Homo sapiens: one gene and its partners. The protein of the gene in region 6 purifies or fractionates together with the protein of the main gene of each other region. This does not show direct contact. Each region holds a gene or a part of one and is shown on either strand. Other genes may lie near its edges. The genes, in order: CACNA2D1, CYB5B, SLC25A23, SLC25A46, TVP23C, SLC5A8 and GPR89A.

What was found.
Region 1: the proteins of SLC5A8 (region 6) and CACNA2D1 purify together in Homo sapiens (affinity purification with mass spectrometry; one large-scale study listed by BioGRID and IntAct). This does not show direct contact.
Region 2: the proteins of SLC5A8 (region 6) and CYB5B purify together in Homo sapiens (affinity purification with mass spectrometry; one large-scale study listed by BioGRID and IntAct). This does not show direct contact.
Region 3: the proteins of SLC5A8 (region 6) and SLC25A23 purify together in Homo sapiens (affinity purification with mass spectrometry; 2 studies listed by BioGRID and IntAct, with this or other methods). This does not show direct contact.
Region 4: the proteins of SLC5A8 (region 6) and SLC25A46 purify together in Homo sapiens (affinity purification with mass spectrometry; 2 studies listed by BioGRID and IntAct, with this or other methods). This does not show direct contact.
Region 5: the proteins of SLC5A8 (region 6) and TVP23C purify together in Homo sapiens (affinity purification with mass spectrometry, with the first as the bait; 2 studies listed by BioGRID). This does not show direct contact.
Region 7: the proteins of SLC5A8 (region 6) and GPR89A purify together in Homo sapiens (affinity purification with mass spectrometry, with the first as the bait; 2 studies listed by BioGRID). This does not show direct contact.

What each region holds. Positions count from the first base shown.
Region 1 is NC_000007.14:82,440,686-82,445,306, reverse strand, and holds the start of CACNA2D1 (voltage-dependent calcium channel subunit alpha-2/delta-1 isoform 1 preproprotein), read left to right. Parts: upstream 1-1,529; 5' UTR 1,530-1,847; coding exon 1,848-1,942; intron 1,943-4,621. UniProt on the Homo sapiens protein: The alpha-2/delta subunit of voltage-dependent calcium channels regulates calcium current density and activation/inactivation kinetics of the calcium channel. Plays an important role in excitation-contraction coupling.
Region 2 is NC_000016.10:69,444,868-69,448,788, reverse strand, and holds part of CYB5B (cytochrome b5 type B), read right to left. Parts: intron 1,640-3,921; coding exon 1,511-1,639; intron 675-1,510; coding exon 645-674; intron 1-644. UniProt on the Homo sapiens protein: Cytochrome b5 is a membrane-bound hemoprotein functioning as an electron carrier for several membrane-bound oxygenases.
Region 3 is NC_000019.10:6,446,137-6,450,057, forward strand, and holds part of SLC25A23 (mitochondrial adenyl nucleotide antiporter SLC25A23), read right to left. Parts: intron 1-3,921. UniProt on the Homo sapiens protein: Electroneutral antiporter that mediates the transport of adenine nucleotides through the inner mitochondrial membrane. Originally identified as an ATP-magnesium/inorganic phosphate antiporter, it also acts as a broad specificity adenyl nucleotide antiporter.
Region 4 is NC_000005.10:110,759,183-110,763,103, reverse strand, and holds part of SLC25A46 (mitochondrial outer membrane protein SLC25A46), read right to left. Parts: intron 1,901-3,921; coding exon 1,322-1,900; 3' UTR 1-1,321. UniProt on the Homo sapiens protein: Transmembrane protein of the mitochondrial outer membrane that controls mitochondrial organization.
Region 5 is NC_000017.11:15,546,475-15,550,395, reverse strand, and holds part of TVP23C (Golgi apparatus membrane protein TVP23 homolog C), read left to right. Parts: intron 1-3,247; coding exon 3,248-3,337; intron 3,338-3,921. Other genes in the region: TVP23C-CDRT4 (uncharacterized protein LOC100533496), read left to right, coding at 3,248-3,337.
Region 6 is NC_000012.12:101,207,262-101,211,805, reverse strand, and holds the start of SLC5A8 (sodium-coupled monocarboxylate transporter 1), read left to right. Parts: upstream 1-1,567; 5' UTR 1,568-1,957; coding exon 1,958-2,308; intron 2,309-4,544. UniProt on the Homo sapiens protein: Acts as an electrogenic sodium (Na(+)) and chloride (Cl-)-dependent sodium-coupled solute transporter, including transport of monocarboxylates (short-chain fatty acids including L-lactate, D-lactate, pyruvate, acetate, propionate, valerate and butyrate), mocarboxylate drugs (nicotinate, benzoate, salicylate and 5-aminosalicylate) and ketone bodies (beta-D-hydroxybutyrate, acetoacetate and alpha-ketoisocaproate), with a Na(+):substrate stoichiometry of between 4:1 and 2:1.
Region 7 is NC_000001.11:145,624,824-145,628,744, reverse strand, and holds part of GPR89A (Golgi pH regulator A), read right to left. Parts: intron 1-3,921. UniProt on the Homo sapiens protein: Voltage-gated channel that enables the transfer of anions such as iodide, chloride, bromide and fluoride which may function in counter-ion conductance and participates in Golgi acidification.

The DNA of each region.
Region 1 (4,621 bases), on a different chromosome or scaffold from region 6:
GTGGGAAGGAAAAATAAATTCACCAGGCTAAGCATCATAAAATCACACACGCTCTTAAAATTTGGCCAGTAATTAATAGTAGTAGTATTATTATTAGTCTTTGTTTTGGGAGATTGCCTTCAGAGAGCTGGAAAATTCATTTCGAATTAATAAGGGTCTTTTTCTTTCAGAAGCATCTCCTAAAAATAAGAACGGGCTAATTAAAAATCTGACAGCCACCCCGATACTTACAGAATTTTTGCATATGCAGGATAGTCATCACAAATTGTATTCTCTGCACGTCATGTCAAAAGTATTCTCATACACTACTAGAGGGAGCTTAAGAATTTAAGGTGTGCAAGAATATATTTCTATCTTTGGCCCACCAGGGCCCTCTTGTAGGAGGCCTGTGTTGGGCGGGAGAGGCCTAGTCGCAGACCCTGTCTTTTCAAGGAGAAAGCCCGCCACTGCTTCCTCTGAGTCTGGAGATAAAACCAGTCCGGCATTGCTACTCCCTAGCTCTCTCCCCCTCCCTTAATTCCTCCTCTACATTTCAGGCGCATTTCTCAGAGTGCCACCTGTTCCTGCTGCTTACCCTTTTCATGCCTTCGCATTGACAAAAGTGAGCTCACCCTGCGGTAACCTTGTCAGGCAGGGCAGGCCAGTGGCCAGAGCAGGGCGTTAGGACCCTTTTGGAGGTAGTCCCAACTGGGATGCTGCAAAGCGCTTCTCTTACTACTGTCCTCCCTAGATGCAGAATTCGTCCCTCCACCCCTCTGTCCAATGGAACCACAGGGCTGGGAAGATTTTACAGCGTCAGTACTTCTCTGTCCGTCCACAGCCCGGTCCCTGAGGCTCTGTCCTCGCCAGGTGAGCCGAGCAGTACCTGGGCGTGGGACCGCTGGCACAAAGGGCACCCAGCCCCGGCAGAGGCTCTAACCTATGGCACACGCGGGCATATAGTGCCACCTGGTAGAGAGTCAACAGTGGTGCTTTAAAATGCAATACAAACCCCTCCTACATTTGTTGTCAAATCACTTCACGATTCCCAGGCAGGCACTGGATTCTGCGCCTGGGAGTAGGGCTGGGGGGGAACGCTGCCTGCATGTGCAAAAATAACCCCCGAAGACGCGAGCCAAGTCCTGGGTTGGAGCCTCTGCAGCCTGTGGATGCCCGCTGGGCGGCTGGCCGTCCCCCGGGAGCCCCGCGGGGCTGGTCCGCTCCGCCTGCGCACGCCGGGCGGCGGGAGCGAGCCGGCGCCGACTTTGGGAGTTCCTGGCTGCCTTGTATGGAGGGCTGCTCCCGGCCCGTCTCCGCCCGACTGCTCTGACGCCCAGCCCTCCCGCTGCCCACCCCCAGCCGCCTCCCTCTGACTTGCCTAAGAAGCCAGACGGAGCCTCTCGCTTCCACAAGTCTCTCTGCCTGCCATTCCCCGATTCCTGCAGCCACCCCCACCCTCCAGCGCCGTCACCCCTCCTCCGCCCCCGCCCCCGCCTCCGCCTTCGCCTCGGCAATCGGGGGAATAAATCAGGGAGGAAACCGAGAGGGAGAGCGAGAGCGCGCGAGCGCCGGCGGGCTCGCCGAGGTCTGTTTCCAAAGTCGCCCTTGATGGCGGCGGAGGCAAGGCGGCCGCGGCGCGGAGCAGCCGACGCACGCTAGTGGGTCCGCCCGCCACCGCCCCTTCCTCGGCGTCCGCTCCCGCCCTTGCCGTCCCCCGCGCGGCTCCGCGCCTCGGGCCCCGGGCGCAGCCAGCCCTCCAGACGCCCGCGGTCCCGGCGGCGTGTGCTGCTCTTCCTCCGCCCGCGGTTTCCAGCGCCGCTCCTTCCCCCGCTTGGGCAGGGAGGGGGCATTGATCTTCGATCGCGAAGATGGCTGCTGGCTGCCTGCTGGCCTTGACTCTGACACTTTTCCAATCTTTGCTCATCGGCCCCTCGTCGGAGGAGCCGTTCCCTTCGGCCGTCACGTAAGTCGGCGGGCCGGGCAGGGAGCGCCGGCCGAGGGGCGCCGCGGGAGTTGGGGGTGGGGGTCGGTTCCCGAGTCGCGGGGCTTTTCCGCCCGTGGGGGTGGGGAGCGAGCGGCCGGGGAGCCAGGCTCGGATGCGGAGACGCCGGGCAGGCGGTGCGCGCCGCTCGCCGCTGGAATGCGTCCCGAACCGGCGTCTCGGGCGCCTCCACGGGGCCGGGCACTGGGGGCCGACTGTCCCGGGAAGCGCCCGCCGACGACTCGCGGCGTCTCAGCCCGTCTCTAACGGGATTCTCTAGACTTCAGAGTGCAGCCGTACTGGGGAAAAAAGTTTCCAGCCAGCTCACCCGCTCTGATTCAACCCAGTTCAATAAAAAGTTATGTTTTGGTTGGGTAATTTACAAACAGGTAATTTCAGGCTTGCCGAGGTAGCGTGGACTTCCCCCGCACTTGGCCTCGGAGATGCTCTTTAATTGCTGTAGTGCCCAAACTCGTTTTATCCCACGTTACTGGATGCACTTGACAGCCTTCCGATTAGACGCGTGCTGGCTCCCCGCGGCCGAGCGTGCTGTCCACGCAGGGGGCTCGCAGGTACTGGGACCACGCGATCCAACCTCCCCAACCCATTATTTGAAACATCTAAGTGTCGGCAGACACGCGGTCCCTGTTCTTCAAATGAATAGAGCCTATTCTTTGAAGGAGGGACTATTTCCAGTCTCCTACAAATTTTCTTTTATTTTTACCATTTCTAAAATAACTTTTAAAAACCTCGCTGCTGTTCTGGAAATAGAGGGCTTATAGGTAGCTATAGTCACACCACAGGAAGGGAATGAAAAATAATAATTCTCTCCTTTCTTAGCAAAATAGAATCAAACTCAATGGCACATATAAATATATACATATTTTTTAATGCACCGAATAGCCTATCCGGCATTCTGGGAAAGCATTTATTTTGGTTCTTGGAGCTTCTTTAAAGCTTCTAAAGGTAGGTAATCTTAAGTGGATGAGTCACTTTAATGCATTTTACATAACAAAAACAAAGCCCAAGGTAGCTTTCCCGGTATTTATGCTGCTGGGAATTACTTGCTGTCCTTTGTTGGCTGAGTGCTGAATACAGGAGTTTTTGGTGGAAAGTAACAGTGAATCTTTAGCGGTTGAAATCCTGCGGCTATTATTTAAGATTCAGTTTTAAGTATTTATTACCTTAGGTGTCAGTGCAAGAATCTGGAGGATGCACATTCTATCCCGGAGAAGGGGAGTGTCTAATTTTTGTTGTCATTGAGTTACAGTAATGTTCCTCTTTAGATAATCTTCCATAAAACTGATTGCAGATCCTTTTTGTTATGAAGCAAAAGGGTAAATGCCATCTGGAGATCTTCGTTTAATTGGCAGGATGTTCCAGTCAGATATTTTTAAACATAAAAAGAGTAAGAATCACCCTAAGGATGCTTCAGAATTATTTACTCTTATTAAGGCATCACACTTCCATTTAATTTTTTAAGTCTGTTTGTTGCTTGGCCTGTAAAGTGAGAACTCAAATGAGTCGCTTGCATTCTGTGTCAAATAAATAAGTGGCTCTTTAAAAAACAATCACTTCCTAAATGTGTTCCGATTACTCATTTTTACAGTGTTGTTTTTAACTGACAATTTATCAATATTTTTATCATGGGAGGGGATACATCATCATACCATTGGGGAAAACTACAACAAAATACAACCTTTTATTCCTCAACATACTGTGGTAAAATATTAATGTAAAAATCCTTATTGTTAAGAAGAACATCTGCAATAATGCTTTCCTAAAATTATAAGTAAATCAATTTTCATGGTCAGAAATTTACTAGACACAAGAAAGAGTATATATAGTGGGTTAAAATGGGAAGTAGGACATCACAATTTCTTTTCTTTGGAAGGATCTGAAATTTTTTTTAACGATGAAAATTCAAGATATTTTCAAATTATATAAGACATTGATTATTTAATGAATGAAATACTTAATAAAAGGTTTTGTGGAGCGAAGTCAATCTCCTGTAGGTAATCTTAACAATATTTTTGGAAGCCTTCTGCATCTTCAGTTTTTCATTTGAAAAGTTAGTAACACTGTCTTCTGAGGAAAGAACTGATGGTTGACATTTGTACTTCATGTTAGATTTCTGAATAAACTTTATGAAATTAAAAAATGCAATATTTTTCATAAAGATGTGCCATTTGCTTTTCTTTCGAGAAAAGAATTCATATGCACTGTTTAATCAGGACAAATCTCAAATCTTTGGGGGAAAATTTCAAATTTATAAAAACTGAGTGCAAAGACTGTAGTGTCAATAAAGGCAAATTATTATGCTTCTGTATGTAAATTTCTCTCGGAATCATTAGTAAATATTTTTGGGTTTTTTTTTTTGCCAGTTTCATTTTTCACAGAAAAAGTAATGTAAGAAGTTTTTATCAGCTGAAGAGGAAGAGCATGCCATCACACACTATAAAATTAATTATGCACTAATTGGAGTTGGACTTCAATTAGAATTAGTAGTTCAAAGTTTTTTTTTAAAAATATAGAGTGTTTACATTTGTGTGAAGGGCTTAAATTCTATTATGGTAAAACAAATGATGTGTCAGTTAAGTATCTTCTTTCATTTTTTGCTCTCCTGTTTAACATACATTCTAATATAAATTTTCTTTTGGA
Region 2 (3,921 bases), on a different chromosome or scaffold from region 6:
AGGAAAATTGTTAGGGAATAAGGGAAATGAACCACCTAGCATGTGGGAGGCAGAAAATGGTTCCATATTTTCTTCCTGGTATGCAATGTAGTACACATTAAAGTTTTCAAACACTCAAATACTTAGTCTTTTGTTTTCGCTGTATTACTAAGTAACCGGGAAGGGTGTGGGCCTGTTTGAGCCTACAGGAAAAAAGAATTAAATTTGGAAAATAAGTACAGAAAGGCCTCTGTATTACAGATAAAGAAGATAACCTATAAGAAACAAAACAACTTTGCAATTATTTTTTTCCAACACAGAAACAATTATTATCACTTGTCCTACATAATGTAAAAGTAAGATATTTTTCCACAACTGAACCCATAAACTAATTTCTTTCAAAACCACACAGGGCATAGCTTTGGAGTTTCAGTTAAAAAAAAAAAGCGTATAAAGGCATTAGCAAAATGTTTCCTACTGTTCAAGACTCAGCTATTCTTTTATTCCTGAGATGATACTGAGTCCAAATTCCAGAAAAATAGGATTTTTGCTTGGGGAAAAAGTAAATACTTTGTAACTTCTCTTGTTAAGAAAAAATGTTTCAAAAAGCAGTCCTACTTGAGTAAACACAAATATAAACACAAGACAAACCGCTGACTTCTTACCTTGCTACCACTTTCAGGTTTAAGGTCACTCTGTCAAAAAAAGGAAAACAAATAATATTTTAAGACATAGCCAAATGAATTCTCACTATATGCTTGTTTCTAACTTTGGAACATGAGACTATATTCTGGTGATAGTGAATTCCCTGGGAGATTTGAGGATCCATAGAAAGATACCTCTACTCTGAGCATATCAGAGTCCCTTGTTAGAATGGTATATATGGATAGTTTTTAAAGTCCATAATTACTACCTTTAGCAAGGAGCTTGCAAAAACAAGCAAACCACTATTTTAGGTAAAGGTGTTATTAACTGCATTACAAAAATAAATCAACACATAAAAATAATCCAGAATCAGTTCCCTTAGCTTTTTAGAGATATTACATGTGCTACCTGGCAAAGAAGAAGCTATATCCTAGCACAGTAAGACTAGACAATTTTGGAGAAAATTTAGCCTGATGGCTAGATTGAATGAATTTCCATTTTAATAATTTTTTTTTTTTTTTTGAGACAGAGTCTCGCTCTTTCACCCAGGCTGGAGTGCAGTGGTGCAATCTTGGCATACTTCAACCTCTGCCTCCCAGGTTCAGGCAGTTCTCGTGCCTCAGCCTCCTGAGGAGCTGGAATTACAAGTGTGCGCCACCACACCCAGCTAATTTTTGTATTTTTTAGTAGAGGTGGGGTTTCACCATGTTGGCCAGGCTGGTCTCGAACTCCTGACCTCAAGTGATCCGCCTGCCTTGGCATCCCAAAGTACTGGGATGACAGGTGTGAGCCACCACGCCCAGCCAATAATTCATTTCTTCATCCTGTTCTGCAGCTGTTAAGTAGTTTTCTCTGCATAAGGGCTCCCATCTCTGATAGTTCTTACCGGATGGATATCACCAATGTAGTACTGCTTTAGCATTTCTCTGGCATCAGAAGAGTGTCCTACATCTTCAAAGCTTTCACTTGCATCTACACCAGCTTGTTCCAGCAGAACCTCTTCTCCTCCAGGGTGCTACAAGGAAAAGATATTTACTGAACCGAGGGTTCTCTGAAAAGCAAACCAACAAGTTACTTTCCCATACCCCCTTCTTCCTTTCTCCCTTTAATAGAAATAATGGAACAAATTGACATTGTGTGGTGCCTGACAGGATGCAATGGGAAGAACACAGCATAACTTCTGTGATACTGTGGTCAAAAATGCATCATATGGGGATTACAGTGAGGACACCTGGGACAACCACAAATTTAGAAATATTCTACAAAATCTTTCTGGACAGGTCTGGCCTGTGATCTCTAAAGATACCACAGTCATGAAAGTCAAAGAAAGAGTGAAGAAACTGTTCCAGATTGAAGGAGGCTAGAGATTCATGACAACTGGGAATAATGGGTGATCCTAGGTTGGTTCCTTTTGCCAATATTATTGAGATAGCTGCAGAAACCTGACTAAGGACTCCAGGCAAAGGGTATATGCAATTCTTTATTCTATTCTTGCAACTTTTCTGTAACTTTGAAATTGTTTCAAATTAAAAAGTTAACTAGGCCAGGCACGGTGGCTCATGCCTGTAATCCCAGCACTTTGGGAGGCCAAGGCGGGCAGATCACTTGAGATCAGGAGTTCAAGACCAGCCTGGCCAACTTGGTGAACCCGTCTGTACTAAAAATACAAAAAGTGCCAGGCATGGTGGTGGTGGGTGCCTGCAGTCCCAGCTACTCAGGAGGCTGAGGCAGGAGAATCACTTAAACCTGTGAGGGGGAGGTTGCAGTGTGCCAAGATCACGCCACTGCACTCCAGCCTGGGCAAAAGAGTGAGACTCTGACTCAAAATAAATGAATAAATAAATAAGTTAACTATATAAAGTAGTGCCTCAGGAAGTAGATTCTATAACTATCAGCTATGTGACCCTGCACAAGTTATTAAAAAATTGAGATGTCTTTAGTTCCTTAGTTGTAAAATGGAAATATTAATAAGAGTACCTGTCTTGACAACTATTGTACATATTAAATGAGATAAGCATATAAAACACTTTGCACTCCAGAAGAGCATAATATAATACCATCTACAATTTTTAAATGAAGATATATATATGCATATTTATACCCATGCATAAAATCTCTCTGAAAATGGTGAAAGAACCTAGTGGCTGGGAGATAGGGTAGAAGGAAGACTTCACCACATACTCTTCTGAAAAAAAATTTTTTTTTTTTGAGATGGAGTTTCGCTCTTGTTGCCCAGGCTGAAGTGCAATGGCACAATCTCAGCTCACCGCAACCTCTGCCACCCGGGTTCAAGCGATTCTCCTGCCTCAGCCTCCCAAGTAGCTGGGATTACAGGCATGCGCCACCATGCCCAGCTAATTTTGTATTTTTAATAGAGACGGGGTTTTTCTCCATGTTGGTCTCGAACTCCCAATCTCAGGTGATCCACCAGCCTCGGCCTCCCAAAGTGCTGGGATTAAAGGTATGAGCCACCATGCCCAGCCTCTGAAACTGTTTTACCAAATAAAGCATTACTTACTCAGAAAATTAACCATTTTGTAAAATTATATTTAGCACAGTCCTTGACTTAAATACTCAAAAAACATTTACTTAAATTAGCAAATTTAGAATTTATATTATTTAATATATCAAAATTTGTATTTTTGAAATATTAATGCTTTTTACTTTTTATAACAACCATTTCAGCAGGAATAAATTATCATTCCTATTTTAAATAAATGTTAATTCAATTGAAGTATAAAAACTGTAAGTGTTACTTCCCAGTCATAGTCACCAGCCTATGAGCTCCCTGAGGATAAGGATAACTTCTATTTTTATCTCCTAAAAGGTCTCCACCCAGTGAGTGGGTCTCACATCCCAGTATTTAAGAATGCTATTTTACAGCAAGAGTAAGACAGCCACGATTCACTTGTTATTATATCTGAAACTCTCAGGTTATTATATGTGAAACTGTTCTTTGTTGTGGAACTAAGTCATCAGTTCTGGAATTATGTCCCAATTTGTTCTATACACCTAAACTATGGATGATATTTTTTCCTTTTGACACAACCCAACTATTGTGTTGCCTTTCAGAGTAAAAGGACAATAAAACTCCTTCATAGATTACAACATTTCAGGGAATGACTGAATTTTTGACTTGCTACACAGTTCTTTCTACAAGTACTTTCACTTTCATCAGTCTCTCACCACTTATAAACAAGAGAAAGCACAACACTTTTTTAAAATATTAAGTAAAAGTTATATATTCGCTGTGGTAAATTTGGAAAAAAGAATAATCAACTAGAGTCCTGGAACAGA
Region 3 (3,921 bases), on a different chromosome or scaffold from region 6:
GTGGATCACTTGAGGTCAGGAGTTCGAGACCAGCCTGGCCAATATGGCGAAACTCCATCTCTACTAAAAATACCAAAATTAGCCGGTGTGGTGGCAGGCACCTGTAATCCCAGCTACTCAGGAAGCTGAGGCAGGAGAATCGCCTGAACCGGGGAGGCGGAGGTTGCAGCGAGGCAAGATCACACCACTGCACTCCAGCCTGGGCAATAAGAGCAAGACTGTCTCAAAAACAAACAAATGAACAAAAAAACACTCTCCAACGACACTGCCTGTGGTAGATGCTGTGAGTACACCACCTTCATCCCTTCCCACTCCAATTCAGACCTGCTGACTTCTTACTGCCAACATTTACCCAAAGACTTTGCTTGTGGACTTTCTCTGAACGCAGGCCAGCCGGCTCTGACCACTTAGGAATGGGCAGAAAGCCCTGGGAAATTAGCATCTCCAGATGCAACCTTCAAAAGACTGACCTGGTGGATCAATACCCCAGCTCCCTCATCTCTCTGGTGCAGCATGTCTTATGCTGCCTCCCACAGATCTCTAGAGGGCTGGAACTCCATTTGCTAGGAATAGTAACTTGCTTGATAACATACTGTTACGGGTTGAATCATGTCCCTCCTTTGGGGGGGAACATGTTGATGTCCTAACCCCCAGTATCTTAGAAGGTGACATTCTTTGGAAATAGGGTCTTTGCAGATCTAATTAGTTAAGATGAGTAGGGTAACAGGGTAGACCCTTAGTCCAGTATGACTGGTGTCCGTAGAGGAGAAAGACAGAGACACACACGGAGAAAGACAGCCAGGTGACAGCGGAGGCAGAGATTTGAGTGAATGTATCTACAAGCCAAAGAATGTCCAGGGTTGCTGGGAACAAGCAGAAACTGAAAGAAGGAAGGAAGGAAGGATTCTCCCCTAACAAGTTTGAGAGGGAGTATGGCTCTGCTGACACCTTGATTTTGCACTTCTGGCCTCTGGAACTGTGAGACAATAACTTTCTGTTGTTTTAAGCCAACCAGTTTGTGATACTTTGTTACAGCAGTCCTAGGAAACTAACATACTCATACTGTGTGCATTGACTCCCTGTCTCATTACCTCCCCAATAAATCACTTGTCCTCACGTCCCAGTTTCAGGGTCTGTTTTGGAAGGATCTCAAACTAAGACCAAAACTATTATTATTATTATTGAGACAGGGTCTCGCTCTCACACCCAGGCTGGAGTGCAGTGGTGAAATCTCGGCTCACTGCAACCTCCGCCTCCTGGGCTCAGGTGATCCTCCCTACTTCAACCTCTGGAGTAGCCAGGATTACAGCTGTGCACCACCACACCCGGCTAATTATCTTTATTTTTATTTTATTATTATTTTTTGAGACACAGTCTCACCCTGTCGCCTGGGTTGGAGTGCAATGGCACCATCTCGGCTCACTGCAACCCCACCTCCCAGGTTCAAGTGATTCTCCTGCATCAGCCTCCTGTGTAGCTGGGATTACAGGCTTATGCCACCGGGATTACAGGCATGTGCCACCAGGCTTGGCTAATTTTTTGCTTTTTTTTTGAGACGGAGTCTCGTTCTGTCGCCCAGGCTGGAGTGCAGCGGCACAATCTCAGCTCACTGCAACCTCCACCTCCCGGGTTCAAGAAATTCTCCTGTCTTAGCCTCCCAGGTAGCTGGGATTGCAGGCACACACAATCACACCCGGCTGATTTTTGTATTTTTAGTAAAGACAGGGTTTAACCATGTTGGCCAGGCTGGTCTCCAACTCCTGACCTCAAGTGATCTGCCTGCCTCTCCCTCCCAAAGTGCTGGGATTACAGGAGTGAGCCACCATGCCCGGCCCTATTATCTCTATTTTATAGAAAAGAAACTGAGGCTCGGGAAGTTACTTGCCCAAAGCTACAAAATAAAGGTGAGAACCAACATTCACAGCTGTATGTGAATCTAGAACTGTGCACCTGAAGACTTTAGGGTGGCTAATCCCTTCTGAAGCCTTCTGCCAAGGTGACTGTAAGAACAAGACCTTCTTTGCTTTGCGGCTGGGAGAGGCTTATAGGTTTCATTTCCTATGCCAATTCTAATCCACCAGAAATTGCTGCCTGAAACTGGAATTGTGTTGAGCAGGACTCAGTGCTGTGATGGATTAGTAATGCCTAGCCCAGGCACAGACTGGGTAAAATAGGCAAGTACTTAACATTATTGCCTTTGAAATTTTAGAAGCCTTCTTTTGGGTCTAGAACAGCACTTGCCAAATAGATGTTTAATGGGTTATTATTAAGATCAATCTGTTGAAAAGAAGTTCTAAAGACGGCCGGGTGTGGTGGCTCATGCCTGTAATCCCAGCATTTTTTTTTTTTTTTGAGATGAAATCTCGCTCTCTCACCCAGGGTGGAGGGCAGTGGCGCGATCTTGGCTCACAGCAAACTCCGCCTCCTGGGTTCAAGCGATTCTCCTGTCTCAGCCTCCCGAGTAGCTGGGATTACAGGTGCCCACCACCACGCCCAGCTATTTTTTGTATTTTTAGTAGAAATGGGGTTTCACCATGTTGGCCAGGATGGTCTTGATCTCTTGATCTTGTGATCCACCCCCCTCAGCCTCCCAAAGTGCTGGGATTACAGGTGTGAGCCACTGCACCTGGCAATTCCAGCATTTTGGGAGGCCGAGGTGGTCGGATCACTTGACGTCAGGAGTTCAAGACCAGCCTGGCCAACATAGTGAAACCCCGTCTCTACTAAAAATACAAAAATTAGCCTGGCGTGGTGGCGCACACCTGTAATCCCAGCTACTCGGCAGGCTGAGGCAGGAGAATTGCTTGAATCTGGGAGGCAGAGGTTGGAGTGAGCTGAGATCACACCACTGCACTCCAGCCTGGGTGACAGAGTGAGACTCTGTCTCAAAAAAAAAGAAAAAAAAAAGTTCTAAAGACTAGATTAATGTGGCCAGCACTGGGTTAAAAACAAAAAAAGTTAAATCACTTTACTGAGAGACTTCTCGGAGCCTTTAAGGGACAAACACAGATTTTGAAACTCCAAGGTTTCTAAAACCTCTTAGACTTTTAAAGTCCCTTTTTGGGTAAAGAATGCATTAAATAATAAGACTGTGTCTTCTTTCTGTCTTTCTTTCTTTCTTTTTTTTTTTTTTTGAGACAGGATCTTGCTCTGTTGCTGAAGCTGGAGTGCATTGGCATGATCACAGCTCACTGAAACCTCTGCGTACTGGGCTCAAGCAATTCTCCCATCTCAGCCTCCTGAGTAGCTGGCACTACAGGTGTGCACCACCACACCTGGCTATTTTTTTTTTTTTTGAGACAGAGTCTTGCTCTGTCACCCAGGCTGGAGTGCAGTGGCACGATCTCAGCTCACTGCAAGCTCCGCTTCCCAGGTTCATGCCATTCTCCTGCCTCAGCCTCCCAAGCAGCTGGGATTACAGGTGCCCGCCACCATGCCTGGCTAATTTTTTGTATTTTTAGTAGAGATGGGGTTTCACCATGTTGGCCAGGATGGTCTCGATCTCTTGACCTTGTGATCCACCCGCCTCGGCCTCCCAAAGTGCTGGGATTACAAGCGTGAGCCACCGTGCCTGGCCACCTGGCTAATTTTTAAATTGTTTTATAGAGACTGGTCTCGAACTCCTGGGCTCAAGCAATCCTCCCACCTCGGCCTCCCAAAGTGCTGGGATTACAGGCACAAGCCACTGCTCCTGGCCGCATCTTATTTCTACTCACAACTCTTTTTTTTTTTTTTTTTTTTTTGAGATGGAGTTTCACTCTGTCACCTGTGCAGTGCAAGAACTCGGCTCACTGCAACCCCCATGCCCCGCCCTGGGTTCAAGCGATTCTCCTACCTCAGACTCCTGAGTAGCTGGGATTATAGGTGCCCACCACCACGCTCGGCTAATTTTTGTATTTTTAGCAGAGCTGGGGTTTCACC
Region 4 (3,921 bases), on a different chromosome or scaffold from region 6:
CTTAACCCACCAAATTACATTTAGGAATAGACAAAATGTTTTTATTAAACTGATTAGTAATTTTTTTGCTTATTATATGTTGAAATGTACAAATGTACTTTTTCCCCTCACCCATAAAATACAAGGGCACATTTCCTTTAAGGTTTGGATTTTTCTTCAGTATTCATCTAAAGAAGTTTAAATAAAAGGTGATAAGAATAATTGCTTTTCCCTCCACGTACATCTATTTTGGAAAACAAAATTTAAAGCAAAACCTGAAAGAAAATAAAAACGGAAGCCATTATTTAGTGGTGACTATATACTAGACAAGAGGCACAAATTCCCAGATGAATTTTAATTTTGTTTCCTCTCAGACAAGCCATTCAGAAATAAAAGGGAAATGAGGTTCATTTAAGTACACAATTTGTAAATGTGGAAACAGTAGTAATTGTCATGATTATTTTATATTCTCTCTTAACAGTGGCTCTAAAAACAGCCCAATGATTCACACAACTAGCAAAGCAAACCAAACTCTATAAATGTATGAGAAATTAAGTTGCTAGCACTGAAACACTGGGTTTGGATATGGACAAGGATGTTGTCTCTGACTTGTATCTTTTGGGTACCTTGGTTTTTGATATTTTGATGTTCAAGCAGAAAGCGCGTGACTTTGTTTTATGCAATAAGGTGATGTAAGTGTAGAAAATGTGTAGGGATGAAGGAAATTCCAAGTTACATGTGTATACATAAATGGCTTTATAAAATACATATATATAGCCATTAAGATAGTTACATAGGGACAATGCAATTTAAAACATTTATACTCCTGCTTACAGATTGCCAAGTCTAATCATCCCTTAAGTCTTTTTCAATAATGACATAATTTATTTGCTTAAAGGTAAAAACCTCCTGATTGTATTAAGGACATTAATATACTACACTGTATTAAGGATACTATACCAACATCAATCTAGGAGGTAAAATAAACGTTTGGCAAATATTGAAGTCAGATGGAATAGATTCAACTCTATAAAGTTTTGTTTTAGATTTTATAATAAAATTTTGCTTCTGCCTACGATCATGTTTACTTCAGCATGAGTGCTACACTAACTAGAATTTAATAAGTGTTATTTTTATTGAGTTTTCAAATTTGGAAGGATTTTGATCCAAAATATATACCTATGCCTTAAAAAACAAAGTCAAGATAATCAGTATGGGCTTTAGTACCAATTTTACTTTCCAATCCATTTTCTTCCCCAGTATTTCACTTGTATCCCTCATAACTTCATAGCAAATTATCCAGATTATATCTTCCAGACTACTCAGTGAAGGAACCTAAATCTCAAATGTTATTTTGAAGAAGTGTAGAGTAAATAATTTTGGTAATCTGTAAAACAGCTGCATGCAGTGTGTACTGTATTATAACAGCACCAAACCCTTTATAAAAACCAAACACTCCTTCCTCCTGCCTTATGGTATTGATACAGTCTCTCATTCCCTCATATTGTGTATTAATTGGAAGCACTTCATAGCCAAGGTCTGTATTGTCAATTATTGTGCGTGTTCCTTGAATGTGAAGGCGGTGCAAAACTGTTTCCAATGGGTAAAGTATAACGTCAGAACAAAGACTGGCAGCAAAGTTAGCAATAAGTTCTGGAAAATAAGCATCCAACATACTCTGCACAGGGCTAGTGCTCTCAGCTAGGTGGCTATTGTAAGTCTTTCTCTTTAGAATTAGTAGGACAAACTTCTGAATAACTGAGCTGATGATGTAATGAAGAACTCCATGAAGCACCGTAGGGAAGATCAAGGAAAGAAGCGGAAGAAGTCGTTTGCTATGAGGCACTCCCATGCCTATCACTCTTCCAATTCCTTCTTTAACACACTCCAAAATGCCAGTATTATCTCGAATTATCTCACTCTGAAATAAAAATGATGAAATAAGTAAAACTTAACATTTGCTTATTTTGCCACAGAAAAAGGACTCTTTTTAGGTTCCTTTTAAATCCTAACATAGTGACTGAAGAGGGAAACATCCATGATTTGCAGACTTTAACTGTTATCTAGGCATCAGATTTTTTTTCAAATGAAATCTCATAAAATTGCTAGCAGTGAAGTTGGGAGCTAATCTTATTGGGGTAGGGAGACTGGGGAGATGTGTAGGTGGATACATCTCAAGAAACTTCTTAGAACTCACATGGAAAGGCAATAACTATGTAACGCTTAAGGAGACAATATAGTGCTTATAGTTCTTAAACATGTTTAAATCCTGGCTCCATTACTTACTGGCTATGTAACCATTGTCAAGTTACTTAACTTCTCCTAAGCACAGTTTCGCATTCTACAAAAATGGAAATGAGCACTGTCTACTTTTTATGCACAGGGTTGTTGTGAATATTAAATGAAAAAAGGCTTGGCACTCAGGAGTCACTCAATAAATGTTAGTCTTATTACCACCTGCAATGTCTGCTTTTGTAGAATTTTGGGGATATGAATAAGAAAGTTTGATGTGGATTACCGAGGTATAGATAGATAGAAAAGAACTTGCCAAAAGGCACTTTGGCTGCAGCAATGACTGCAGGAAAGTAGCAGATGAAATTTATAAGGTAGCCAGGGGCTATATCATGCCTTAGAGACTAATCTGTAGACTTTGGCTTCTAGTCAGATGGGAAATAACTGGTTGATTTTAAGCAGAAGACGGACATGACATAATTTGTATTTTGAAAGAATACTGGCTGTTGTGCAAAGGAGAACAAGATCAGTTGAGAAACCAGTTCAAAAGTTACTGGAATGATTCCAGTAACAAAGAGATGATGGTGGCTTGGACTAGAAGGTGGCAACAGAAGTAAAGTGGTTCAATTGTGCTTTTATCCTAAAATCAAAGTCTATGGGAATTACTGGTGAATTGCATTTGGGGTATGCAAGAGAAGGGTCAAGGATAACCCCAAGGTTGCTGTCCAGAGGAACTGGGGGAATAGCACTGCCTTTTATTGAGATGAAAAATTGCCAGAGTAGCAATTTGGTGAAGATCAAGAGTTCAGAAATGTTAAGTAAATTAACTCCAAATGGAGTTCACAATAGAAATTACAGAAAAAGGTACACAATGGACCTACAGATGGTTTCCAACTTACGATGTCTCAACCTAAGATTTTTCGAATTTATGACAGGTTTATTGGGATGTAATCCCATCGTGAGTGGAGGAGCACTGTATTATAAATGTGGGAGTCTTTAGTAAATAGATGATATTTAAAACTATGAGATGACAGTGAGCTTGCCTAGCCTTCTAATCCATCTTCCTACTTCTGACCCTGACATCCTTCCCACTCCAGTTTATTTTTAATGCAACAGTCAAAGAGATCCTAATAAAGATGTAAGTCAGATCACACCACCGCTCTGCTCAAACCTATCAAAGACTTTCCATCCTTCTCAAACAAAAGCCCAATTATTACAATGATTTACAATGTCCTATGTAATCTGGTCCCCTCTTACCACTCAGGCCTCATCTCCTGTATTCCCCCCTTGCTTACTTAGCACCAACCATAACAGCTTCCTTTCTACTTCTTAAGCATGTGTGATACAACACACATGACACAGTCCCACTTGAGAGTTTTTGCACCTGCTTTCCCTCTAAATACAATTCAACATTTGCTTATTTTGTGCTTAGTTAGCACCAGCCACATCGGCATCCTTCCTACTTCTCAAGCATGTATGATACAACACACATGACACAGTCCCATGTAAGGGCATTTGCACTTGCCTTCCCTCTACTTAGAATATTCTCCCAAATATGCATGTTGATCTTTACACAAATGTCACCTTCTCAGTGAGACCTTTACTTATCTTCTTAAAAAAATATTAACCGCCCCTCCCTACCCATTACACATCCTATTTGCCTTCCTTGCTTTATTTTTGCTTTCTTTAGCAGTTAATCGCCATGAAATA
Region 5 (3,921 bases), on a different chromosome or scaffold from region 6:
AAATAAAATTGCCCAAAGCACCTACATTTTCTACTCCAAAGAAACAGAACTAGAAATTAATAGAAAGTAGTTGTTGAAATTGGAATTCTTTTAAAAAAGCGAACTACTACATATCTTGGGTTTAAAAGGAAGCAAAAACTGTAAATATAAGTTATTTATACCTTAATGGTGATCATTTACAGTTAAACTTTCTGAATATGTCAAAAACTGAATTCAGAGGGAAAATAATAGACTAAAGCCTTTTATTTTAGACAAGAAAGAGGGAAAATAATGGACTACTTGAGTCCAGAAATTTCAAAAACAAGCAATAAGTGTGAGAAATCAGGAAAATAAACTAATAAAGATAAAAGCAGGAAATAAAGAGTTAGAAAATGGAAACAGAAGAGTTTGAAAGTATTCTGAGAGCATTCTTTGAAAATACCTATAGAAGAGACCTCTGGTTTAGGTCTCCCTTGCCAGCTCTTTTTTTTTTTTACTTAGCATCTCTCCCATAGGAATTTTGGTCTCATAAGACTCTTCCTTTTCTTCTCCTGTATTCCCTTCCTAAGGAGTGCTGTCTGTGCTTCTGGTTTGAATTGCTGATCTGTAAGCTGTGTTGCCTCCCAGATCTGTATCTCCATTCAGGTTTGTCCTCACAACTTAAGGCCTCTCCATGTGTCTTCTTGACGTTTTTATGTGGCTGTCTTGAAGGCATCTCAAATCTTTTTTTTTTTTTTGAGACAAAATCTTGCTTTGTCACGCAAGCTGGAATGCAGTGGTGTGATCTTGGCTCACTGCAACCTCTGCCTCCCGGGGTTCAAGTGATTCTCCTGCCTCACCCTCCTAGATAGCTGAGACTACAGGCATGCACCACCATCCCTAGCGAATTTTTGTATTTTTAGTAGAGGCAGGGTTTCACTATGTTAGCCAGGCTGGTCTTGAACCCAAGTGAGCCACCATGCCTGGCCAGGCATCTTATATCTTAACATGTGTAAAATACTACTTGTCATCTTCCACTCCCCAAAAGCTCTTCTTCTTTGAGTGTTCCCTTTCGTGGGGCCTGGAATCACTATTTTTTTACTTGAGCAAACCGTAAATGTATCAGTTGCCTCCTTCCTACTCCATATCCAATTAATGACCAAGTCCCATAAATCCATAGATTGTACTTTCTTCATTAGGGCATCAGTGCCTGCTGCTCTATCTGGAATGCTCTTCTTCCTCCCACATCACCTTCATACAGGGATTCCTAATCTTTTTATGCCATGGGCCCCTTTCATAAACTCATGAATAAGTTTTCACATATATAAAATACATAAGATTTCAAAGGAAGTCACTTATATTGAAATATAATTTAAAAATATTAAAAAAGTAAATTTCTGATTGAGTTATATGTGTAGTAGTTCCCCCATTATCTGAGGTTTCGCTTTCTGCGGTTTCAGTACTGCTATATGCTACGCTAAACAGTAAGATACTGTGTGAGGAGAGAGAACTACATTCACATAACTTTTATTAGATTATGTTGTTATAATTGTTCTATTTTTATTTCTTATTCTCTTACTGTGCATTATTTATAAATTAAGCATTATCATAGGTATGTACTTATAGGAAAAAATATAGCATATATAAGGTTTGGTATTAACCACAATTTGAGGCATCTGCTGGGGGTCTTGGAATGTATCCCCTGCAGATAAGGGAGGACTACTATACTTTATGAATTTATTAATGGTAAGATCTAGTGGCAGGTCTAATAACTACTTTCAAAGCAGTGGTGAGCATAAACAATATGTTAAGATAACTGCAGCAAGTATAGTACAAAATGAAAAATGTCTGTGGTTTCTATTGTGTCAGGGTGTTTTTAATTTTACCTATGTTCATAGTTTGTTGTCTACATTCATAATTTAATGATATGCTAACTACTTTCAAAGCAGTGGTGAGCATAAATAGTATTTTGAGGCCGTGCGTGGTGGCTTACACCTGTAATCCCAGCACTTTGGGAGGCCAAGGCGGGTGAATCACTGAGGTTGGGAGTTCGAGACCAACCTGACCGACATGGAGAAACCCCATCTCTACTAAAAATACAAAATTAGCTGGGCATGATGGCGCATGCCTGTAATCCCTGCTACTTGGGAGGCTGAGGCAGGAGAATCGTTTGAACCCGGGAGGCAGAGGTTGTGGTGAGCTGAGATCGCCCCGTTGCATGCCAGCCTGGGCAACAAGAGCGAAACTCTGTCTCAAAAACAAAAAACAAAACCAAACAAAAAACAAAACTACAATATTTTGAGGTAACTGCAGCAAATATAGTACAAAATAAAAAAATGCCTGTGATTTCTATTGTGTCAGGGTGTTTTTAATTTTACCTACATTCATAGTTTGTTGTCTACATTCATAATTTAAAGATATGCTAAATTTTAGCCAGAGGTTAATGAAAATGAAGGTAACATTTTTTTTTACCCATCGAGGTTCACAGAACCACTGAATCTATTAGTGGACACCATTAATTAAACATCCATGGTACTGTTGATTCTTATTTATCTTTTATATTTCATTCCAAATGTTGACTCCTCAGAGAGTCATTTTCTGATACCCAGACTAGATCAAATTTCCCTGTTATACTCTTCAAGCATCCCACACTTTTCCCTTGCAGGACTTAACTCAGTTGGTAATGGTACATTTGTGCATTGGTTGTCTGCCTCTCTTCACCTCTTTCCCTGAGGAAGGAGTTGGTATCTGTTAGTCACTGTTGTATTACCAGCACATAGTAGATGCTCAGTAAATATTTGTTGAGTAAATAAAGATTAGGAAAGCTATCAAACTAATTTGTTACCTTAGTAAGTAGGAAAAGAGCTTGGTACACTTGAGAGACTGACTGAAGGCCAGTGTCTATAATCATTTTCAGGGATATGTAGTTGTAAAATATATGTAGCTATAGTCAGGATGTAAAGTAGGTCACAGTAACCAAATAGCAAGGGGTTTAGGGAAAATTAGGGAACTGGAGAAAGGGCAAATTGTTCATGAGGGAAAAGAGAAGGTGTAATGTTTATGGGTGGACTTGTTGCTTGCTCTGTCACCTCTACCCCTATTAGTCCTGCCATTACCATTTTACTTAATCGTTTAGCCAGGCCTGATACATAGTAGTCTTTGCTAACTGGATATTATGGAGGTAAAGCTGAAGGTTTTTGTTTGTGAAATGTTACACTAAGATAGGAGCTTGTGACAGATCTTTAAATAATGCTTTTAAAATGTGCCTGTTTATATTAATCTTCACCAGAATGTCACAGGTAGACTAATGGTTGGCCTACGTTGGTGGAATCACATTGATGAAGATGGAAAGAGCCATTGGGTGTTTGAATCTAGAAAGGTAAAGTGCCTTTTTTGTTTTAAATAATGTTATCAGCTAAATTATTTGTAGACTATATTTAAATACTGGAAGATGAAGTATTCAGAATTAAAAACACTATACCAAATCACTTGGCATGTCAGCACTAAAGGAGATGGCCTTCTAGAATTTAATGCATTTTTCTGTCTAGTTCAGACCAGAAACAAGCAATATACGAACAGAATCCTTTGAGGGAAGACACTGGGTCTGAGTTCATACAGTGTGCTAAGCTGCCTGTCAGGGATTGCTGATAAAAGATCTCTGTGTTGCCTTTGTTAGTGTCTCCATAAATCCCTCTATGCTCAGCAGATAACTGCTTTTAACATCTTGTTCTGTCTTTGCTCCTGTGGTCGTCTTTCATTTCTGGGCAGGAAAAAGGAGGAGGAGTGCAGCTGGATAGAATATCTGATTGGAGCACTCTATTCCTAAGCTTCTGCCTTCAGGAGCCCTGGGGATCCTGGTCTGTTTTGGGTTAGCCTGCTACACTATAGTGAATATTCACTTTCCTTGTGGAAATAAGTTTTGGAAGCAGAGGACCAAATTCTTGGCGACAGTACACCAAGGGT
Region 6 (4,544 bases):
TCATACAGTGCTAGTATTTTATAGTGTCAGGGTCTATTCACATATAATCTCATTTAACCCATTTTAATTCCGTGAGATAAAAACCAATATCCCCATCTAAGATATGGGAAACTAAGACGTAGAAGAAAGCACTTGGCTAAGATATCATGGCTCGTAGGTGGCAGTCAAGAGGTGAGTTTGCAGTCTACAGATTTAACCTCAGACTATTCTGCTTCTAACATGACTATAGAAATGTATTGATCATTAGCTGCCTGAAGTTCTGTTCTTAACTCTAGGTGTCCAAAAGAAGATGAATTTTGTTTAGATAGCATTTTCCCATATCTAGGGCTGTTGGCTTTAAAGAAGTTCCCAGAAGTGAATCCAATTCCCAGAAGGATCAAGGTGGATTCTTTTGTGTGTTACTCTAACAGGTTGCTTTATATATATATATAAGTTATATAATATACACATATAATTTATGTATTATATATAAGTATGTATAACATCATATGTAATATATAAATATAGTACATTTCACACTGGTAGGACGTAATTCCAAACCACATATTTGTTTAACCAATTGAATTACTTGGATTTAGTTTCTATTTCCCTCTTTATTTCCTTCTGAAAATATTATACAAATAACATCAGTTTACAAAAAATAAAATCTGATATAGCTTTTTTATCATACACTAGGCTAGACTAAATGCATTCTGTGGATTGTTTACCTAGGACCAGATGGTATATTATAAAGTTGTATACAAATGAACAAGGACTGCCTGAAATGGATTGATAGCTGAGCACATTTGGCTGGAGCGTCTATTTTAGAAGGAAAACCTGAGAATCATATTATTTGAGTGTGATTCATGTGTTAATAGTATTTCAAGACAAGCCACTTAAAATATGTCCTGAGTGGTGATGCTGGAAATGATCTTTTCTTCAGTGTTTTCAAGTGTCTTCATTTAAGTGTACACATTTTGCCTACCTATAACACGTATCTACACATTGTGATTAAGAGAGCAAACTCTGAAATCAGACCTAGATTAAAGATCTTAATCTCTGCCAGTTGATTGGGCAAGTGACTTAATCATTCGACAGTAATTTCTGCATTTGAAAATGCCTATCTCAAGGGTAATGAGAATTACACTGGTTCACCAAAAGAATTACACTGACTAATATAAAACGTGCCAAGCATGTATGTGTCACATGAAGGCTCATTAAAAAGCGGATATTATTGTTAATCTTCCAATAACTACTATTTCCAACAACAGGCTGAAGGGGCTCAGAAACGTTTGTTGAGTAAAAACACAAGGAAACAGTAGCACAGATTTCCTGCTCTCCTTTACGATCGATGACCTGTCTAAGGACTGTGATCTCTGTTCACTACAGATTGTCACCTGCATTAATCTACTGTCACCCATTAACCTATCAAATAAGGCAGTCTAAAAACTCCAGGCGTCCCTTTCCGTAAGGACCCGGACTGTTGAACTGGAAAGCTAAAATTCAAGGCGTGACAATTGCCCTTTGTCCCACATTCCTCCACCGGTCGCCTGCTTATTTAAATGGTGCGTCCCCTCGGGTACCACTTGAACAAAACCTGCCCAGAGCGCTCCCTGTGTAGATTCGCTGGAAGCAGCTGGAGGCTCCAGTTCTCATCTGCTCAGGTGTCCCCGGCGCCTTGGCGAACTCGGCCACTCCAGTTCCTCACGTGGTGAGCACTCAGGGCAGCGGGTCGATTTTCCGAGGTCCCATACCTGGGTTTGAGGGGCGCGGCTCGCAGCGGCGGGTGCAGGGGCGACTGCCAGCCCTCACCCCGCCTCGGGGTGCGTTCGGAGGCCGACACCTGGAGGACGCCTCCAGTCCCCGCGGGACGCCACGCCTGCGCGCCAGGGATCCGGGATAAGAAGTGCGCGCCGGGCTCCGGCTGCGCGCCGCGGGGCCACCAGTTTGCGCGCAGGGCTCAGGCGACCGTGCGGCCATGGACACGCCACGGGGCATCGGCACCTTCGTGGTGTGGGACTACGTGGTGTTCGCGGGCATGCTGGTCATCTCGGCCGCCATCGGCATCTACTACGCCTTCGCTGGGGGCGGCCAGCAGACCTCCAAGGACTTCCTGATGGGCGGCCGCAGAATGACCGCAGTGCCCGTGGCGCTGTCCCTCACCGCTAGCTTCATGTCAGCCGTCACTGTCCTGGGCACCCCCTCCGAGGTCTACCGTTTTGGGGCCATTTTTAGCATCTTTGCCTTCACCTACTTCTTTGTGGTGGTCATCAGCGCGGAGGTCTTCCTCCCGGTGTTCTACAAACTGGGAATTACCAGCACCTACGAGGTAAGGGGCAGGGTGGGCTGGGACCATGCAGGGCGCGGGGGAAGGGGACTCTGCAGACCTCTGGAGGCGTTTTCTTGGGGGCAGACTGTCACTGCCACATCGAAATCTCTCCCCGTCCATCGTCATCATCACCCTCCCTTCACTCCTCCCCGTCCCCCGATCTTCACCTGGCATCTTTCCCTTCTACTGAGAGGCGTCCTCTAAGGGTGAAAAAATTCTTGGGATTTACTCTCCTGGGCTTAGTGAAAAAAAGAGGCTTCCAAAGTGAACGGATTGCAACAGTAGTGCTCGCTATGGTCCTTTCTACCTTTAGCATCTTTGATTCCCAGGCAAGGGGAAAGATTTTTGGGGAAGGTAAGTTCTTCAGGTCTCAGGCCCTGCTTCTTGAAAGGAATACTCTTGTTCCAGGTCCTCAGCCCCATTCACTCTTCCAAGATAGTTGGTAAAGAATTTGTACTCCCCTTCCTTCCCCTTCCACACCCACCCCCTTTCCACTGAAACAGGCACCCAAGTGGCTAAGGTGTACCAGTACCTGTATTTCGGACCAGATTCTACCACTTACTAGCTGGGTGACCTTGGGTGACTTACCCAACCTTTTGTGCCTATTCCTCAAAAATAAAATAATATCACCTACCTCATCCAGTTGGGAGGATTAAATGAGATGATGCAAGGTGTAGCATTTAGAATAGAGTTTGACACAGAGTAAGTGCCAGATAGGTATTGGCCATAATTACTGTGGTGGTGCTAGTTGTGATGGTGGTAGTTATCTTGGGATCAGTAGGAAAATTAGGCAGCAAGGTTCTCAAACAGCTCTGCCTTCTCTATGGAAAGACAATTAAGGAAAACTGTCTTTCCTCTATTGCACAGGTCCCCTGGCTATAGGTTTTCTCAAGTTGTCTGCAAGAAAGGGCTTTGAAAAGATGATGCACGTTTAGTTTAAAGAGCTGTTGAATGGGAGGTGGGGGCGGGATCAAAGCTCAGGGGAGTGGCGGGGCCCAGTTCAGTGCCTTCAGTGGTCTCCCTCACCCAGCACTGGTCCTTGAGCTACATGGGACAAGCCTGCAGAAGTTTCCTCTCTATTAGGCCATTACCCAGAGGACTCCAATCCTGAGATTCTGGCAGGTGGTTTCCTAGTGAGGCTGGTTCAACTGGTGCTGGGGACAGGGCCTTAACGGCACAACAAACATTGGTGACACACTCTGCCTGGGCTCTAGTGACATCTTCCAGGGCGAGGCACCCCTGGGCAGCATTGCCTTCCATTCACTCTGGGGCTGTGTTTGGGAGAGCTCAATAATTATCCCAGAAGTGAGCAGGATGCAGTTTCTCAGGTTTGCTCAGAAGTGACAAACTGGCGAAATTCCCCAGACCAAATTCACTTCTCAGTCATTTTTTTTTTTTACTTCTCCTTATAGTGAGAAGAAATAAAATATAATTTCAGACTATGACTTCTTTCGAGAACTCAAAAGGCTGGTAACACTGGGCCCATGCTCCCTGTGGCCACAGGAACTCAAGTTTATAGCTATTGCTCTCACTCTCTATTAAACTTCTATATTGAAGTCTTATCTTTGTGTTTTCATGGTTACTGTTTTTTTGGTAGAGAAATTTTTATCTGCATTTATGTCTTTATCAAAAAATGTGAAAGGCAAAATGGACAGGGGTAAAGGGATCTCTTGTTTCCAGGGAGATGTAAGAAAACATATATCTTAGTGGGTGGGAGGAATATTCCAACATGTTAATATGTGAACACCTGGCCACTGTCACTTATGTATGTTACCTGATGGAACCTGGAGGCATCTGAGTCTGTGAGCTGTGATCTATAGCTAACCAATTCCCAAACTTGGAAAGGGTTTGAAGAATCTGGCAGGAGGACTTCAGTCCCCACACATGAATGCTGCTCTCATAACCACTGACCCATGCCTCTTCGGGGCTACAACATTAACTCAAGCAGAAACAGATTTCCCTCATGCTTGCAGTGGTAGAGGCTAAGTTAGCAGGGGTTCCAGCTAAAAATGTCAAAAAGCAAAAGTTCATTGAATGCTGAACACATGCCAGGCACTGGGCTGCATTGCATGTTTTACATACATTATCTGACTCACATTCAGAACAATCCTTATGAGGCAAGTACTATCAAGAGCCCCATTTTGTGGACAGAGACTCAGAGTAAGTTAAGCTACTAGGAATGTGAAGCAGCGTAGACATATGCCTAGCAGCATACTGGCTGCTTCTGAAGGCTCTG
Region 7 (3,921 bases), on a different chromosome or scaffold from region 6:
TGAAATTACTTTCACTAGTAATTGTAATGGCAATAGGTAATATTCACCAAGCACCTGCTATGACTAGGCACTGTTCTAAGCATTTCACATGTTCTAATTCATTTAACCCTCATAACAATCCTATGAGGTAGATATTATTGAAAACCTAATTTTACAGATGAAGAAATGGAGGCACAGAGAGGTTAAGTAACTTAGTTAAGGCCACACAGATAAAAGGGGCAGAGTCAGGATTCAAGTGCAGTCTAGCTCCAGAGTCTGGGCTTTAACCACTACGACACTATGGTAATAAGTTTTCCCCTGGTTGCAAAATTCAACATTTTCCAATCCTTGTTTCATTGGCTCTTTTATGACATTGAATCATTTTTGTTTAAAATTATTTTATCTTCTTGGCTTCCACAACACCATTTCCCTAGGTTTTCCCTTTTACTTCTCTAATTGCTTTTTCTTGGTCACTTCTTGCTCTGTCTGGACCAGAGTTCTCACTTTCATTTCAGTATACACATTTTTTGCTTAGGTGATCTCACCAATTTCCCCAGCTTCACCTAATGGCATTTAGTTGATGATTTCTAGTTGTTTAGATTCCTGGAGTCATCTCTATGAGGACTGATACATGTACACCTTTTCCCTAAGCTCCTGATTTGTACATCCAATTGCTTATTTAACATCACCTGGATATGCATAAGTAACTCAAATTCAGCATATACCAAACTAAAATTATCTTTCCCCTCAACTTGTTCCTTCCTCTGCATTACCTGTCTTAGAAAATGACATAATCACCCTAACAATAAAATCTATACACTATACGATTACTTTCCATTCTATCTCTTGCCTTTCCTTGAATACACCAAGGTCTTTCTGCCTCAGGGCTTTACATGATGTCTCCTGTGCCTTCTTGCTGGGTCTTCCTTTGGTCTTGTCCTTTAAATCTCAGCTTAAATATCCCTGTCTCAGAAAGGGTGGATCTAACTGTTTGCACTACATTATCGGCATTTTTCTCTATCACAGCAACCTGTTCACTCCTTGATGACAATGATCACAATTGGCAATTATTTATTTATATATTTACCTCTTTATTGTCTAGTTCCACCCACAAGACTATCAATTTCAGGGGGGCAGAAACCAAGTTTGTTTCGTTTGTGGTTTATTTCCAGTGCTTAATTTATATAAAGTGGATGCTCAATAAATATTTGTGTAATGCTGAATGAACGAATAAATCCTCACCTAAATTCTGTTATTCTACTTGCCGTATACCTCTTGAATTTGCAACCCCTTTACAAGAAGACATCATTTCTTATTGATCTTTGTTTTCCTTACTGCTTGGCACATATGAGGTGTTCAACAAATGTTTGTTGACTATAATATCACTCAGTAACATAAAAAATCCAAGAGATTAATATGGGCTATTAAATTTGAAAAACTGAAAAAATTCCCCCTCTACCTTTATTCCTTTTAACATGGTGTCTTTGTCCTTTTATTACATATCTTTTTCTGGTTTAAAGTACTTTGTAGATACTATTTACTTAATCTCAGCATTTCTATGAAGTAGGAGTCAGTCATCATTATCCCCATTTAGCAGTTAATACATGGAAAGTCAGATGAATAAGGAGACTAGCAGAAGATCATCTCACCTTTGCCACCTGCTCACACAGATTCCTTACAGTCTTTTGTAATCTCTCTTACTCTTTCCCACTAAGGACATTCCAAGGTTGGTTCAGACACCGCACAAGAAGTACTTTTACAGATTATCTTTTTTTCATTTTACATAAGGATTGGTCTTATCTTTTTTTTTTTTTTTGTAGAGTCTCGCTCTGTCGCCCAGGCTGGAGGGGAGTGGCACGATCTCGGCTCACTGCAACCTCAGCCTCCTGGGTTTAAGCAATTCTTGTGTCTCCGGCCTCCGGGGAGTAGCTGGGATTACAGGCATGCACCACCATGCCTGGCTAATTTTTCTATTTTTAGTACAGATGGGGTTTTGCCATGTTGGCCAGGCTGGTCTCTAACTCCTGGCCTCAAGTGATATCCCTGCCTTGGCCTCCCAAAGTGCTGGGATTATAGGGGTGAGCCAACCTGCCCAGCCCATTTTTTTGTGGTCACCACAGCAATAAACAACCATACTGGTTGTTGGGACAGTCCTGGGAAAGCTCTAAGAAGGCAGTGTAAGGCTGGTTGCTTCTCAGCTACTACCTAAACTTTTCTTCCTCCTTACTTATCTTAAAGGGTTAAATAAATTAAGATACCTGAACATTCAGGCATAAAACTGTAATGCCTATTGGAGTACAATGGAAAGAATAAAACTGAAACTATCTCCCTAGCTTTCTCCCTCAGTGTCCTTTTCAGGGTAATCCCATAGAATTTAGAAAAAGGGGTGGATGAAAGGACAATAGATACAATGGCCTTCATCTTCCCTCTGGTGCGGCCTGGCTGCACTGGTCATGTGAGCTGAATGCACACAGGAGAAAGCTGGAGAAAGGTGTCAGAGTCGGGTCTTTGTAGTGCATGTGAGACTGTATTTGCCCTGTCAGCAGCCCTGGGGGCCTTTTCTAACTCTTCTCTCTGACTTCTACCGTCACAGATAAATGTGTCTGTCTGTGGGTTTCTTTGAAATAGGTTTATATGAGAACTATACTACCAGGACTCTTTAGTGCAAGTCGTTCCCTTTGTTGACCATTGACATAGGCATGCTGATCACATTAGCATTTCCTAAATTCCTATCCAGAGTGTTAAAGTAGTAAACTCATCTACCACTTTGGAGAGACTCAATTTTCTTCCATCCACTGATTCAAAGAACACGTATTAAACACTTGTTATGTGTCAGTTTCCACACTAGGCACTGGGGATACAAAGACAAATAACATGGAGTTTTCTGACCTCAGGGAGCCCATAGGTTGATGAGGAAGTTAGAAAAGGAAACATGAAATTTTAAGTTTTATAGATGATATAGATACCTTGAGATGGTAGCAATTAATATCTCCTAATGATGGCCAGGAAAATCTTCCTAAAGGAATTGACAAGAGTTGAATCTAGAAAGGATAAATAGGCATTTTCTAGGTAGACAGGGTTGGTGAAGGATTGTCCAGGCTGATAGAACAGCTCTAGAAACTTGAGGCTGGGTGTGGTGGCTCATACTTGTAATCCCAGCACTTTGGGAAGCTGAGGTGGGTTGATCCCCTGAGCTCAGGAGTTCGAGACCATCCTGAGCAACGTGGAGAAACCCCATCTCTATGAAAAAATACCAAAATTAGCCGGGTATGGTGGCATGCGCCCATAGTCCCCGTTACTCAGGAGGCTGAGGTAGGAGGATCACTTGAGCCTGGGAGTCGGAGGTTGCAGTGAGCCAAGATCATGCCACTGCACTCCAGCCTGGGTGAGAGTGAGACCTGTCTCAAAAAGAAAAAAAAAAAGAAACTTGAAATAATTTCACAGGACTGGAGAATGCAACATGTATAGAGAGCAGCAGCCAGGTCATGAAAGGTCTCATACGCCACCTAAGAGTTTGAATGCTTTTGGCAGGCTGGTGTTATGTTAAGTTTTCCGGCCTTTAACGTTATTTGAAATTTTGAAAGTTATTCTTATTTTAAAAATACACAACTATTTATGGTATTGCATATGCTTTTCAAAACTGCATATCTCCTCTGATCTTACTGCAGGAGAGTCTCATAACCTCTCTCCCGAAATTCCTGCTATAGGCAATCAGTATACATGGAAGGGTGTGTGGGAGGTATGGCAGATTCTATAATAGACACTGGCTCATTCAACATTAATTCCAATATCCTTTTCCAGCATTTGTTTTGGTACTACAGAGTTTAGAAAGCCAAAAGCCCCTTCTCAGACTTCCTTGAGGCCAAGGTTTTAAATATTACCTAGGTTTCACCAAAAAACCCGGCCCATGTGAGGCCTCAGATGCAGAAATGAACAATGTAG